2 linked regions of the Homo sapiens genome follow. The protein of the gene in region 1 purifies or fractionates together with the protein of each later gene. This does not show direct contact. Each region holds a gene or a part of one and is shown in the gene's direction. Other genes may lie near its edges.

The links.
Region 2: the proteins of XPNPEP1 (region 1) and TIPRL fractionate together in Homo sapiens (co-fractionation; 2 studies listed by BioGRID). This does not show direct contact.

The regions. Positions count from the first base shown.
Region 1 is NC_000010.11:109,864,489-109,871,515, reverse strand, and holds the end of XPNPEP1 (xaa-Pro aminopeptidase 1), read left to right. Parts: intron 1-611; coding exon 612-785; intron 786-1,486; coding exon 1,487-1,563; intron 1,564-2,803; coding exon 2,804-2,902; intron 2,903-3,929; coding exon of another isoform or gene 3,930-3,987; intron 3,988-6,203; coding exon 6,204-6,332; coding exon of another isoform or gene 6,333-6,361; 3' UTR 6,362-6,750; downstream 6,751-7,027. UniProt on the Homo sapiens protein: Metalloaminopeptidase that catalyzes the removal of a penultimate prolyl residue from the N-termini of peptides, such as Arg-Pro-Pro. Contributes to the degradation of bradykinin.
Region 2 is NC_000001.11:168,188,936-168,195,962, forward strand, and holds part of TIPRL (TIP41-like protein), read left to right. Parts: intron 1-2,433; coding exon 2,434-2,565; intron 2,566-3,272; coding exon of another isoform or gene 3,273-3,293; exon of another isoform or gene 3,294-3,460; intron 3,461-7,027. UniProt on the Homo sapiens protein: May be a allosteric regulator of serine/threonine-protein phosphatase 2A (PP2A). Isoform 1 inhibits catalytic activity of the PP2A(D) core complex in vitro. The PP2A(C):TIPRL complex does not show phosphatase activity.

The DNA.
Region 1 (7,027 bases):
ACAAACCAGATATGAAGGTCACAGGGCCTGAGTGGAAGTTGGTGCAGCCTCCTGTCTGCCCTTTAGTACTGGGCCAGTGCTTCCTTTCGGGATTCTTAGGATTTATTTTACTGGGACCCTGACTTCAGCTATGTACTACTTTGCTTGAGGCCTGGTGGGTGGAGCATTGGACTGGGCATTGACAAGACCTGGGCTGCCTTGCTTTTGGGTAGATTAGACATGTACTCATCTCCCTAGGCCTCAGTTTCCTCATCTGTCATGCCTGCCTGTCTGCTTGCAGTCTGGTTAGAGTCTCATCTTTGTAATTCTGAAACCTTAGGGTCGCAGAGCTGGCAAGGGAACGTCCATGTCTGATACGGCCTCTGTGTGCTGTAGGTGTCTATCCCCGCTCACCAGCATCCTGAATGGATGATCGCCTAGCTTCAGACTGAGCTCTGATGGTTTCTCAGGAGCTCTGATTGTTAGAAAGTTCTTCCTTGTGCTGTGCTGAAATCTGAACCCTCCAGTAACTTACCTATTGGTTTCTGTTTCACGTTCTGGAGCCACACATAATAAATTTAATCTCTAAAGCGCTGTACAAATACAATTAAGTGGCTCTTTATGTCTTTCAGGTCACCTTCTTGACTCCTTTGCCCGTTCAGCTTTATGGGATTCAGGCCTAGATTACTTGCACGGGACTGGACATGGTGTTGGGTCTTTTTTGAATGTCCATGAGGGTCCTTGCGGCATCAGTTACAAAACATTCTCTGATGAGCCCTTGGAGGCAGGCATGATTGTCACTGATGGTAAGTGTCCCTCACATAGAGGGCATGCGTGGATCCTTGAGCCTTTTTGAAAGCTATTCGTTGTTTTGTATTTTTTAATTAGTTTAAAGTAAATTGGCAATACTTTTCCCTTCCAACAAACTTTTCTGATTATAGAACTGATACATGTTCATTTTAGAAAAAATGAGATGGGAACTGTGTAAAAAGAAAATGAAAATCATTTGCAATCTAACCACTCAGGGGAAACATGACTTAGTGTTTTACTGTATTAGCTTTTGGTCTTTCAGGTATGTAGATAGCATTTTTTTTTTAAATCATTGAGATCTTACTGGGCATCTTGTCTTATGTTCTGCTTTCTTACTTGATACATTGCCTTTTCTCAGGTCATTGCCAAGTCTTTGTAAATATATTTTAATGCCTTCATTATTGTGTCTTACGGATGTGAACCATGATTTATTTAGTGGATCCACTGTTACTTTACTCCTTACCCTGTAGCCAGTGTGCAGGGACTTCAGAGTCTAGCTTTCTGCACCTCAAGTGCCTATAAAAAAGTGGCCATATGAGAGAAGGTGGCATCTCTAGGCTCTTACACCAGATAGAGTGGGCTCTTCACCCGTTTCTTCTCCTTTGGAGTAGGGCAGTCATCCAAGGAGTGAAAGTTTCTCTCTGTAGACATCTTCATCGTGGGCTGCTTCTCATTTTTGGGATTTGGTTTGTTTTAGAGCCCGGGTACTATGAAGATGGGGCTTTTGGAATTCGCATTGAGAATGTTGTCCTTGTGGTTCCTGTGAAGACCAAGGTGAGGATTTATTAAAAAAATTTTCCTGTTTCTATTAGCAATAATCACGCCTCGGATAGACCTCATTGGCTACAATACTGCCACTGCGCAAAGCTTAAAAATTTTCCTGTTTCTTAGTGTGGGAAGATGAAGACTTAATGTCTTTGGAGCCAAGAGTATGCCATTCTGGGGCCAACATGGAGCCTTCTTCTCCAGATATCAGGGACTTTCCTGGAAACCACACTCCTTCCCTGCAAAGCCAGAAAGAAAATCCTTAATGAACTGGGATCTAGAACTGGGATTCACAGACCCTCAGGCTGATGCTTGCTTCACATGATTTGGGGCTCTGAGTTTACTATAGGCGGCCTGTTGTCTCTTCTGCTAGGGGTGCCTATTCAAGGCGCTAATTTCCAGGGCCCCTCCCAGACCCTAGAATTTCCAGGGTGGGGGGCCTGGAAGCTGTAATTTTGTCACACTCCCCAGGTGACTTTTATTAGGTAAAGTTGAGGAACCCTGAGTTATCCATGGGTCAGCCTCAAAGGCAATACAAGACAGGTGTTTCACCCTCTTCCCCCATCAGTGTTACCAAGGTTGCAGGGTTTTAGGCTCTAGGCTTTACCTAAAAGACCTGTTTGTGCCTCCTCCATTGGTGGAATTGAACAATTGGAGGGAAGTAGCTTCCTGTGTCTACAAGGAGGTTAACTGCGGGGATCTGCTCTCTGCTTTGGCATGGAAGTCACTATTCTTGGAAGTGACCTCCCATCTTATTCCCAAAAGCTGCCATGAACAGAAACCCGACATGTTCTTGTGTGCTCCAGTGGATAGATGTGTTGTCGCCTGATGGGCCTGGCTGGGTCAAGGCAGACCACACAGTTGACTGTTATAAAAATGATTTTGAGGACTTACACCCCTGCATCCTGGAGAACCAAAACCAGAGATGCCCCTAAGCCCAGATACCCCCATATCCTGCCCCTGTTTCCTATCACAGTAGACATTAGCCTTGGGACCTGTTGCTGGGAGCCCCTCAGCACCCTTTGTTTGGCCTTTCCTGATGGCACAGGCCATTGTTTGCCCAGTGGAGGAGCTCTTGGAAAATGGCATCAGGTTCCTTGTGTGTCTGTGAAAAGTGGTGACCAGCTCACCACTTCTTGGCTCCCAGTTACCCCTGGCTCTGAGGGATGGCATGCTGGTGGAATGACCTCATGGTGCTTCAGCATAGTAAAGAGGAGTAAAAGCATCTGTTTTCTTCTTTCTCCCGCAGTATAATTTTAATAACCGGGGAAGCCTGACCTTTGAACCTCTAACATTGGTTCCAATTCAGACCAAAATGATAGATGTGGATTCTCTTACAGACAAAGAGGTAATGGGGAAGTCTTGGTGGGCAGGCATGTTACTAGGGGAGGTGGAGACTACCTTAAATAGTTCTAATCCATCCTCTAAATCCTAAATTCTCTAATCCAGTCTCACTTTGTAATTTTTAAATTTAGAGGTCTAGGCCAGTTGAGTCTGAAAGCCCTAGGTTTTCTGAGGACTCCTGAGCTTTTCCTGTATTTGTTGGGCCTCCAGGTGGAGATAGTCCTGTTTCCCGCAGCCATTCTGGGGCTGTAGGGTTTGTGGGTGGAACTCGTATGCCATTGTTTGGCTGTACTATTCCTCCATAGCTGCAGTGAGGCGTGTTTAGCAAATATGAGCCTATGTGTGTCCCTACAAAAAGCCAGATGGATGGTGGGGCCTCTTGGCCACTGTACATACCAGATTGTTTTCTTGTGTTACATGAAACATTAAGGAAATGGAAAGCAAAATCTATTATCGTATGTCCTGTTTTCACACAGACAAGGAGAAAGATAGTACCAGCCCTTCTCGGTTACTACTGTGGTCACTCTGGGGCAGTGAAACCCTTCACAAAGCCTGGGGCACAACAGTGCTTACTTGCCCAGCTCAGAGGGTTATGGGTCTTAACTCCTTCAGACCCTGGACTGGTAAGGCCAGGTCAGATGGCAGTCCTGGGGACATGAGAAAGGCCTGAAGAATCACACAGATGTTCAAGGTCAGAGCAGAAACAAGGGTCAGAAATGGGGTAGGAACTGTTAGCACTAGACAGACAAAACAGTTCCCAAACCAGGAAGCTGGAAGCCAGGAGGACACAAATTCCAGAGCAAGGCAGGGGTCAGAAGTTCCAATGAAAAGCAAATGACTGGTGGGAGCCGAAGGCAGGGTAAGCACGGTGGGTTACTCTCGGAATAAGAATATTTTGTTATCTGAGGCAGCCAATGGCCTTTGAGTGCCTCTCAAGGCAGGAACATTTCCTCACTGGCGCCCACTTGGGCCTCGTTCTTGACACTGTAAAGGAAAGGGTCTTTGGGGGTTAAGGACCTTCCCTTCCACAGGAGCTGTGGAATGGGATTCTCCCAGCTAGAAGCCTCTTCTGCCTGTTCCAGTTCACAGGTGGGTGATGAGAAAGTCCATCCACTTCCTGCTTAGCTTTCCTCTGTGCTTGAGCGCCTCTGCTTAACCATCCGTGCCCTTGGTTCAGCTAAACATTCCCACTCACAGGACCCACATGGGCCTTGCTGATACCGGGTGGGTTATGCAGCTTGTAGATGGATATGGAAAAGGAAACTCAGCCTATCAGCACAATGTCTGGTGTGTCTCTTCAGCAGGAAGAGTCCTTCCAGTGTCCAGGGGCTCTTGTCCAGCCCCTGTAAGTGTTGCCTTAGCTGAGAGGAAATGAAAACACATAGGTGGGCATGGGACCCACCCTGCTTAGAATCCCTCTGCCCCATAGGAACCAGTGTCTCTTGTAATGGCCCTTGGGCACAGCTTCCAGGGACTTAGCAAGGGGCTTTCCAGTAATAAGTCATTTCGCACTCTTGGAAGTCCAAGGCTATGGATTCCTGCCAAGTAATTCTAGGTCATGCAGTCCTTCCTGTCCACATAAAGTGTACCCATCAGGAGGCATTTCTCCCATATGACATTCCCCTTTATCCAGGGAAGTAGTATATGAGGAAGTTTAAGCCAGGCCATTTTTCCTCGAAGGAGAATCAGTCTACTCCCGTGACATTGGACATAGACCAGGGATCTGTGTTACCCAGTGTTTCATTGCTGCACCTTGCATGCCCACATGATTGAACTATTCTTTCGGCCAGTTACTCTTTGTAGGGCAGATAATGTCTTCTTAAAATATCTGGCTTTTAAAATATCTGGTCATTTGCCCTTTACTATTTAGCCTTTATTTTGGAGTCACTTTAGGGAGTTTTTGGTTTGGGTCTGCATCGTCATCACTTATCACCAGATGGCAGCAAAGGACCTTGGTCAGATATGAATATGGCCAGCTGCAGACTGTCAGGGCCTTGTGCTGCTCCTCAGGCTCCACCGAGGCTGTCCACACTCCCACTTTTCCCTCCCTACTTCCAACCAAAAGGGCCATGGGCGTTTGGCTGTGGCCCCAGGCTTACACCAGGATGCTGCCGTTGCCTTACTGTTGAGCTGCTTTGGACAGTAGGCTGCTTTGTAGCCCTGCTGGCCTTGCTGTGGACACATAGCAGTTTGCCTGCTTTTGACATCCTCCCCTGCCCCCATCACTTCCCTGACTCCCAGAAGGGGCTACTAGGCTCTTCTCAGTAGGGATTGGAACCCTGGCTGGGTCACAGCCAGTTGGTAACACCACCCTATCTGTCTGCCCTCAGTCCCTTGTAATTAATGGGTTTGTGTGCCCATCCTGACCCCAGCTGGGCTTTGGTACCTGGCTGGATTGTAGTCCCTGAAAGCAGTACTTCTGTAACATCGCTGCCCTCCAAAATGGCCTTTGACTCATTTATGACAAGCACAGCCATGGCACTATCAGTCTCATCAGCTTCCAGACAGCTACCCCCATAGACAGTGATGAGAGTGGCTTGTTGTCCTCTTGGTAAAACCTGCTTCACTCCAGACTTCACCTTTTCCCGTATACAACCAAGGAGGAGAGTTCACCCTTTTTCCTGCCTCAGAGCTTTTGCCATCATGTCTAGTGGATCAGCCCCTGCCCAGGCACCAAGTCCTGCCAGCAGGTCCTTCCTTTCACTCTCTTTTTTGTCTCCTGCTCTTGTGGCATGTTGAGTTGAGAGTCTGAAAACTAAGTTTACTCCCAGCGCCATTCTGCTGCACCACAGTCTTTAACCACCGCAGGTTTTGGGTTCATCTAGGCAGCTACACTCAAAAGACACCCATGGGCTTGGCTGATCCTAGTTTTTTATTCAGCTTTTTCAGTGGATATAGGATATGTAGCCCAGTGTGTTGGCAGGACAGCTTCGAGTGTCTCTCTCAGCAGGAGTTCTCACAGAGTCCGGGGCTATTCCCCCACTTACCACCTCCCAGGATGGCTCAGGTTTAAGGGAATGAAGCCACACAGGTGGGAGCAGGAGCTACTGGCTTAGAGACTGCTGTCTATAATAGTAAACTGTTCTGGGAGCCTTTTCACCAGAAGCCATGAAGTCTGGTCCTATGTATTTCCGGGGAAACAGAACACAAGGAAAATACTTACCTGTGAGTAAGGAGAAAGGGTGTTGCACACCTTTTCTCTCAGCTTGTGATCTTAGCACATGGGGGCCTTTGCTGTTGACCTGTGTAGCCAGTTGTTAAAGATGTAGTGGTGAATACCGTGTCTGTCCTTCTCTTCCCTGCAGTGCGACTGGCTCAACAATTACCACCTGACCTGCAGGGATGTGATTGGGAAGGAATTGCAGAAACAGGGCCGCCAGGAAGCTCTCGAGTGGCTCATCAGAGAGACGCAACCCATCTCCAAACAGCATTAATAAATACCTCCCCGGTTTTGTTTTTGTAAAATGCTCTGGAGGAAGGAAGAAACGTGGCAGATCCCTGACATCTTTCCCCTTTCCTTTCCTTCTTCCCTACCTCCCCTTTTTACTTTAGACTTTAAGAAGAACAGAAAATCTTCTTATCCTCTTTGATATTTTATTGCAAACACTCAGTCTTTTATGATTTTTTAATTGTTGAGAACAAGCCAAGAATAAAATTGCTGCACCAGAAGGAGGGTCCCTCCAAAGTTGAACACTTGGTGAAAGGAAGATGCCCCGACTTCTTTGGCCAGTGATGGGGAATCAGTGAGTGCTCCATGATGGTCATGTTCCAGGTGCTAGTACATCATTCATGATCACCTTAATGCTCATGAGACTATATTTATGATCAGTGAATAAAAATGTCAGAACTGTGCTTTGTCTTAGCTGTCTCTTTCTTCATGGTGCTGTCCCCCGGCATGTCGGGTGAGCTGATCTCCAGGGCTGCTGGCTCTGTGGCAGACATTTCCTAGGTGGAAGGGCCCCTTTGAGAAGAGACCCCTGGCCTCCCCGCACATTTGGGGGCTTAGTTGTAAGCTTTTTCTTTTCTCTAGAAAACCTAATATTATGGTGTTTTTATCTCAGTTTTTTTTCCTGATTTTAAAATATGTCATTCCTATGCAAAAAACAATAAAAATTATGTCAAAAGTCAG
Region 2 (7,027 bases), on another chromosome or scaffold:
GTGCCACTGCATTCCAGCCTGGGCAACAGAGCGAGACTCTGTCTCAAGAAAAAAAAAAAAAAGTTCTGAAATCACTATAGCTCTTTAGGGTGTCATCTCTGATTTGGGAGGAAGCAGGAAATTCTCCAGGGTCCTTGTCCTTAGTGAGCACTGAGCAGTGATGGCACCAAAAGCTAGCAGAGCCCAGCTTCTTCTCTGGATCAGCCAGTGCTATGCCTCAGGGCAAAAGCCAGCCAAGTACAGACTTACTTTTCTCGGCTCCAGTCTTTCCAGATCTCAGCCCAGTAACTCCATACTGCCTTGGCCATTTGATGCTTTTAGGAAGTTTTTGGGTTTTTTTAGCCAGCTTTTTAAATTGTCTTCATCAAGAAGGTTTGTCTAGATTACTTATTCTGCCAATACTGTTCCATATGTTTTTTATTTTTTTGAGATAGAGTTTCATTCTTGTCGCCCAGGCTGGAGTGCAATGGTGTGATCTCAGCTCACTGCAACCTCTGCCCCGCGGGTTCAAGCGATTCTCCTGCCTCAGCCTCCTGAGTAGCTGGGATTACAGGTGCCTGCCACCACGATCAGCTAGTTTTTGTATTTTTAGTAGAGATGGGGTTTCACCATATTGGCTAGGCTGGTCTCAAACTCCTGACCTCAAGTGATCCGGCCGCCTTGCCTCCCAAAGTGCTGGGATTATAGGCATAAGCCACCGCGCCCAGCCCATATGTTTTATATTTAGCTGGTTATTTTTTTTTTGTTGTATTTTTTAGATCCCTGGGTTCAGAGAGAGATATGTGGAGTTGAGGAAGAGAGCTGAAAAGTATAAAGTTTTAGACATATTTAGCCTTGCAAATGGAGACAATAGCATAAATAAGTTAAATATGATATCTCTAACTCATGCTTTGTTTTTTGACTTTGTCTTTCATTTTATAAGAACAAGTACGTAAATGGAAAAACTGACAGATTCATTTTGACCAATCACTTACTGAAGGCATATGTGAAACATTAATGAAGCAATTTACTAATGAGAAAATTCAGATAATGATTAATTTTGGGGGATTCAGGAGTATCTATAAGGAGGATGTTAAAAATGTGTTCCTCTGAACTAAAATCAAATAAAAAGGACGAAATTTACAAGTGTGTGTATTTAACACTAATTTCAGTTGTGTAACCTTAGGCAGTCCTCGTTGGCAGACCAACTTTTGTTTAACTAGATCATAAACTTAATGTGTGATGCAGGGGACTGGTTATATGCCCTGCCCCTACACTCCAACTCCCTTCCCCTCCCAGTTTTCACCTCAAGAGTGGCCTTATACCTGCTCCGTACACAGTTGGAAGTAAAACTGCTTAGGGCTAAGTGTTATCTCTAAGTGACCATGGAAGAATTATGGACATTTTTTTACCTCCTGGAAATCATATACAAACTGCCACTTTCTTTTCATGGCATCTTTTCCCCCTACATTACTTAACGTTCCCTTAGATTTCCTCCCAAAATCTGTGCAGTCTTGTAAACAACATCCTTTGTAATTTTCTTCTGATTCTTATCTAGTTATCTCAAATTACTCTCCATCTGCTAATTTTGTCCATGAGTCAAAACAAATCACCTAATCATGACGCTTAAGTAAAGCTACATTTACTAAATATCTATGGTTTGACAAGCATTGTTGTGTTTGTTTATGGTAAACCTGTCAAGGAGTAAAACAGCTGAGCATTTTGTAGTGAAATTAGGTGTGGTAGAAAATAGTATCACAATTCATACTTGGGTGCTGCTCAGGAGACACTTGAGTTTAATGAGCTCCTGATATGATCTGCCTTGGGACTGTTGATGCTTTTGTTGGATTACGTGTGTGCATGTCTTAGAGCTACAAAATAATACCTTGAAAAATTGCCAACTTCATTCAAAGCTCTTTGCAATGCTAAGAGTTTCCCTCAGAATTTCTCTACAAGTTCTTGTTTACCTCATTATTTAAAGCACTTTATTTTGTTGTAGGTTTTGGGGAGTTAGGTTGAGCAAATATCTAACATTCTAATGGAAAAATATTTTTTAAGTTCCATATGAATGTCCTAAAAGTGGCTTTCACAGCACAAATGTTCTATGACCTTCTATGATAGCAGTCGTTCATCACACTGACTGATGTTTAGTTGATTAATTTTCTCATAGTCACAACAGAAGTTGATTTTAATATGACTTGCATGAAAAATGATAAATTTTTACTGCTTTTTTTGTGAAGCTATAATATTGGGCATCTGTAATGTCTTCAGTTTTCAGAATCAAGCCATATTCTGATCTTTTATATCTACTAATGACACCCAAATTTAGAACTGTGTGCTCTGGCTATGTAGAAAAGACTGATTGAAAAAGAAAAGAAAAGACTGCTTTCCTGTGTCTCTGTAGCTCCTCAACTTTTTTTTTAATGTGCTCCTCTTTAAAATTTTTTCTTTCAGGTTGTACCTACAACAGATCATATAGATACAGAAAAATTGAAAGCCAGAGAACAGATTAAGTTTTTTGAAGAAGTTCTCCTTTTTGAGGATGAACTTCATGATCATGGAGTTTCAAGCCTGAGTGTGAAGATTGTGAGTATTATTTTTATTTAAAATTAATATTTTTCTTGCATTCTTAACATCAGACAAAAATATGACTCACTTTGAATAACACTGAGCCTGGCCGGGCGCGGTGGCTCACGCCTGTAATCCCAGCACTTTGAGAGGCTGAGGCGGGCTGGATCGCCAGGTCAGGAGACCGAGACCATCCTGGCTAACACAGTGAAACCCCGTCTCTACTAAAAACACAAAAAGTTAGCTGGGCATGGTGGCGGGCGCCTGTAGTCCCAGCTACTCGGGAGGCTGAGGCAGGAGAGTAGCGTGAACCCAAGAGGCGGAGCTTGCAGTGAGCCAGGATCACGCCACTGCACTCCAGCCTGGGCGACAGAGCAAAAAAAAAAAAAAAAAAAAAAGAATAACACTGAGCTTTAACATGATGTCATGTACAATTTCACTTGAATCTAGAGTGTATCTTATTGAATATCCATTATAAAATTCACAAAATATTTGTGTATTCTTAAGGCTTTATTTTAGCAAAGCATTTTTAATAGACCTGCCTGGCCACCTTGTAGTTTATTTGTTTATTATTTAACTCTAATGAAGACTGTGGCTTAATTTTCACATTTTGGATTAAAAATGATGTTGATAGGATCTGCAGACGGCAAGGTGGATGTCATTTTTTAAAATGATCCATGTGTTATGATTTCAGTGCATCATTCAACTACCACTTCAATTTTCAGCCTGGTGGCGGGCACCTGTAGTCCCAGCTACTCGGGAGGCTGAGGCAGGAGAAGCGTGAACCCGGGAGGCGGAGCTTGCAGTGAGCTGAGATCGCACCACTGCACTCCAGCCCTCCAGCCTGGGCGACAGAGCAAGACTCCGTCTCAAAAAAAAAAAATAAAATAAAATAAAAGAAGTAGAAAACACACATAACAAGTATGGTTATTCATATTTCTTTACCACTGCATTATAATTGGGTCTCTAATACTTTCCAGAAATAACTCAACTGAAACTTTTTACTAAATGCCTCATTCTTTAAGACCCAAAGACCCAGCTAAAATACCACCTTTTCTACAAGGCCCTTCACAACTCCGTTACACAGAGTTAAATATCTCTTTTCTATACTCCTTTTTAAAAACCTCTCAATTAGGCCGGGCGCGGTGGCCCATGCCTGTAATCCCAGCACTTTGGGAGGCCGAGGCGGGCGGATCACGAGGTCAGGAGATCGAGACCATGGTGAAACCCCGTCTCTACTAAAAATACAAAAAATTAGCTGGGCGCAGTGGCGGGCGCCTGTAGTCCCAGCTACCCGGGAGGCTGAGGCAGGAGAATGGCGTGAACCCGGAAGGCAGAGCTTGCAGTGAGCCGAGATCGTGCCACTGCACTCCAGCCTGGGCAACAAGCGAGACTCCGTCTCAAAACAAACAAACAAACAAACAAAACAAACAAAAAACCTCTCAATTATAGCATTTGTCATGAGATCTGTCAAAGACAGAGACCCTAACATCAAACATTGTTCTTGGGGCATAATGATTGTGGATGCTGTGATTTAAAGAATGAAAATAATACAAAAGCAGCAACAGATTTGTTTTAAAGTCAAATTTTAGCTACTTGGGAGGCAGAAGCAGGAGGATTGCTTGAGCCCAGGAGGTCAAGGCTACAGTGAGCTATGATGGTGCCACTGCACCCCAGCTTGGGAGACAAAATAATTTTATTTTTAGATAAATAAAAAATTTTATTTTTCTTATCTAAAAATAAAATTAGTTTTTTCGGTGGAATCAAAGGATTTTGAAATTGTAGTGAATTTTTAGAGAATCATTTTTTGTAGCCTCCATATTTTATAGATAAGGCCTAAAAAGATAGCTTAAGGTCATGAAACTAATTGCAAAGTTTTCTTTGTATCATCTAATATATATCATTATTCTAGCATTAGATAGTTGTTTTCATAGGCTTTACTTCTTTGCTCACTTATAACTCTAAATTCACTTTTTTTTGTTTAGATTTATTCTCTCTTCAGTTCACCTAGTCTTGTATCTTTCCACTTGTCTACCACCTGTTGAATTGACTATGCTAAATGTTCATTATGAGTTTGCATACCTGGGTGTGCATTTGTATCCAAGGGGGTATATATATCATGTCTATAAGTGGGTCGGTATTTGGAAAGCACATGTGGTTTTGTGGATGGAGTTGCTTGAAAGGATATGTGTATAAATATGTGTGTACAAGAATACATAGTAAGTCTTAAACTGAAGAGCATTTTTTTAACCAACTACTTTAAGCTGAAGTATTAGTTCATAGATATTACTATCCTGTAGTGAAATTTGTAGATGATTTAATCCACCTACTTTGCAGCAATCAACATATTTTAACTATAAAATTAAAGGAAATTGGTTTAGAATAAAATATATTTTAATACTTAAATGCATAATATGACTGCACCAAAGACATAATGAAGCAGTCAGGTACTTATATTTGCATATTGAGTCACCGTAAATGTGACAGCAAAAAATGTAGGCTGACAGAGATGTAAGGTATCAATCAGTGACTCTTAACACAATTTTCCAAAATGATGAACAACTCTTAGTGAAGTTCTAAATAAGAAAAAGTATAATCTTTCCTTGATTTGGAAAATAGTTGACTTCCTGGATAATTGAGTGATTTTTTTTTTATTATCTATGTAAAATGGAAATAGTTTCTAAAGTCAGATCATTATAAGTAGGCTTTTTCACCTCTGTGAATGCCTGGTAAGATACTGCAAGTTTTGTGGAATGCAGGACTGGACTTTGTTGTATAGGATTGTCCTGTGCATCCCAGATCTGTCGTTCTGGTCCTTATTCACTAACTGTTGATATTGGTTGCTTATTGATGTGACAAGAAAAAGTACTCTCACAAATTCCCAAACGTCCCCTAGGAAAGAACTACTGCCCTAAAATATGCTATTGTATTGGCACTAGAGTTCTGGTCTCCTAATTCCTACTCTCTCCACTGTGCCATGCTAAAATGATATTTCAGTTTACTGCCTGTGTTGTGTCCAGTGTGACTGTTGGTAACTAATTTTGAAATTTGAAGAAATGTTGCAAGTCAGTTTTTCCATAAATTACACATATCACTGTGTAGTAATGTCAAATAATAATGATGTGCTTCTCAATTTGTTGTGACATCAAGTTGTCATAAGTCAGGTTATTTCTACAGCTTTCCTTTACTAAAAGTCTTTTTTTTAAGTCTGTTGCTGATAACCCCATCAGAATACACTTTGGCTCAGAGCCTTTTCTCCAGCAAAGGTATTAATACCTTCTAGCTTCAGTTTTATCCGGAAAATGGTTAATGAGCACCTGCTGTGTGCTAGGTACTTTTCTAAGCAATAGAGATGTGGTGATGAACAAAGCAGATATTTCCACCACCATGGAGCCTACAGTCAAGTGGAAACATAAATGAAGATAGTTACAAATCCGTTAATTCGTAATGGAGTGCTATGAGAGAGAATACCAAGATAAATCTATTGTGGTATGGAATGGTAAGAAAGGCCCCTCTGTGGAAGTGACATGTGTACTGAAATCTGAAGGACAAGTGAACATTAGCCGGGAGAATACTCCAGGTAAGGGAAGAGGGTGTGTAATGGTCCCAAGGCAGAAAAGAATTTGGCCTGTGGCTGGTGACTCTCCAGGCAGTTAAGTCACTGTCATTACTGGGTTATCCTGTTATTTCTTCTTTCATCATTAATGTAGCCCTGTGCTTATATGTAAGATTATAGGCAGTTCCCTGAATATATGTTATTATTTCATGTCTCAGTACTTTTTGTACATGCAGGTCCCCTTTCTGAAATTCTCCTTCCCATCTCTAGCTGTTCTTTCTGTGGTCAGCTCAAGCCTTGTCTTATCTGATGTTCTTCAGCAGACTTAGGTACTTCTTTCTCAAATGCTTATTGAGCCTTGTGCATACCCATTATAGCAGCTACCACATCTGTTTGACCTTTCCCTGGCTGATAACCTTTTTGAGCATTGGGATTCTATTTTTTCATTTATATAAATCCAAGACTTACTATAGTAAGAACTTGGTGTTAGTAGACAATAGGTATTTATTCAGCAAATGGCCAAGCATATTCATTTTAATTAATTAATTAATTTTGGGACAGGGTCTTGCTCTGTTGCCCAGGCTGGAGTGCAGTGTTACAATCATGGCTCACTGCAGCCTATCTCCCAGGCCCAAGCCATCCTCCCAGCTTAGCCTTCCACGTAGCTAGGACTACAGGCTTGTGCCACCGTGCTTTGCTAATTTTTTGTATTTTTTGTAGAGATGGGGTCTGACTCTGTTGCCCAGGCTGGTCTTGAACTCCTGGGCTCAAGTGATCTTTCCACCTCAACCTTCCAAACTGCTGTGATTATAGGTGTGAGCCACCATGCCAGCTAAACATATTCATTTTAAAGACCCAAATACCTCACATTCCATTCAACCGCTCTCTCCCCGCCACCAGGACCCACCTTCATACTTTCTCCAC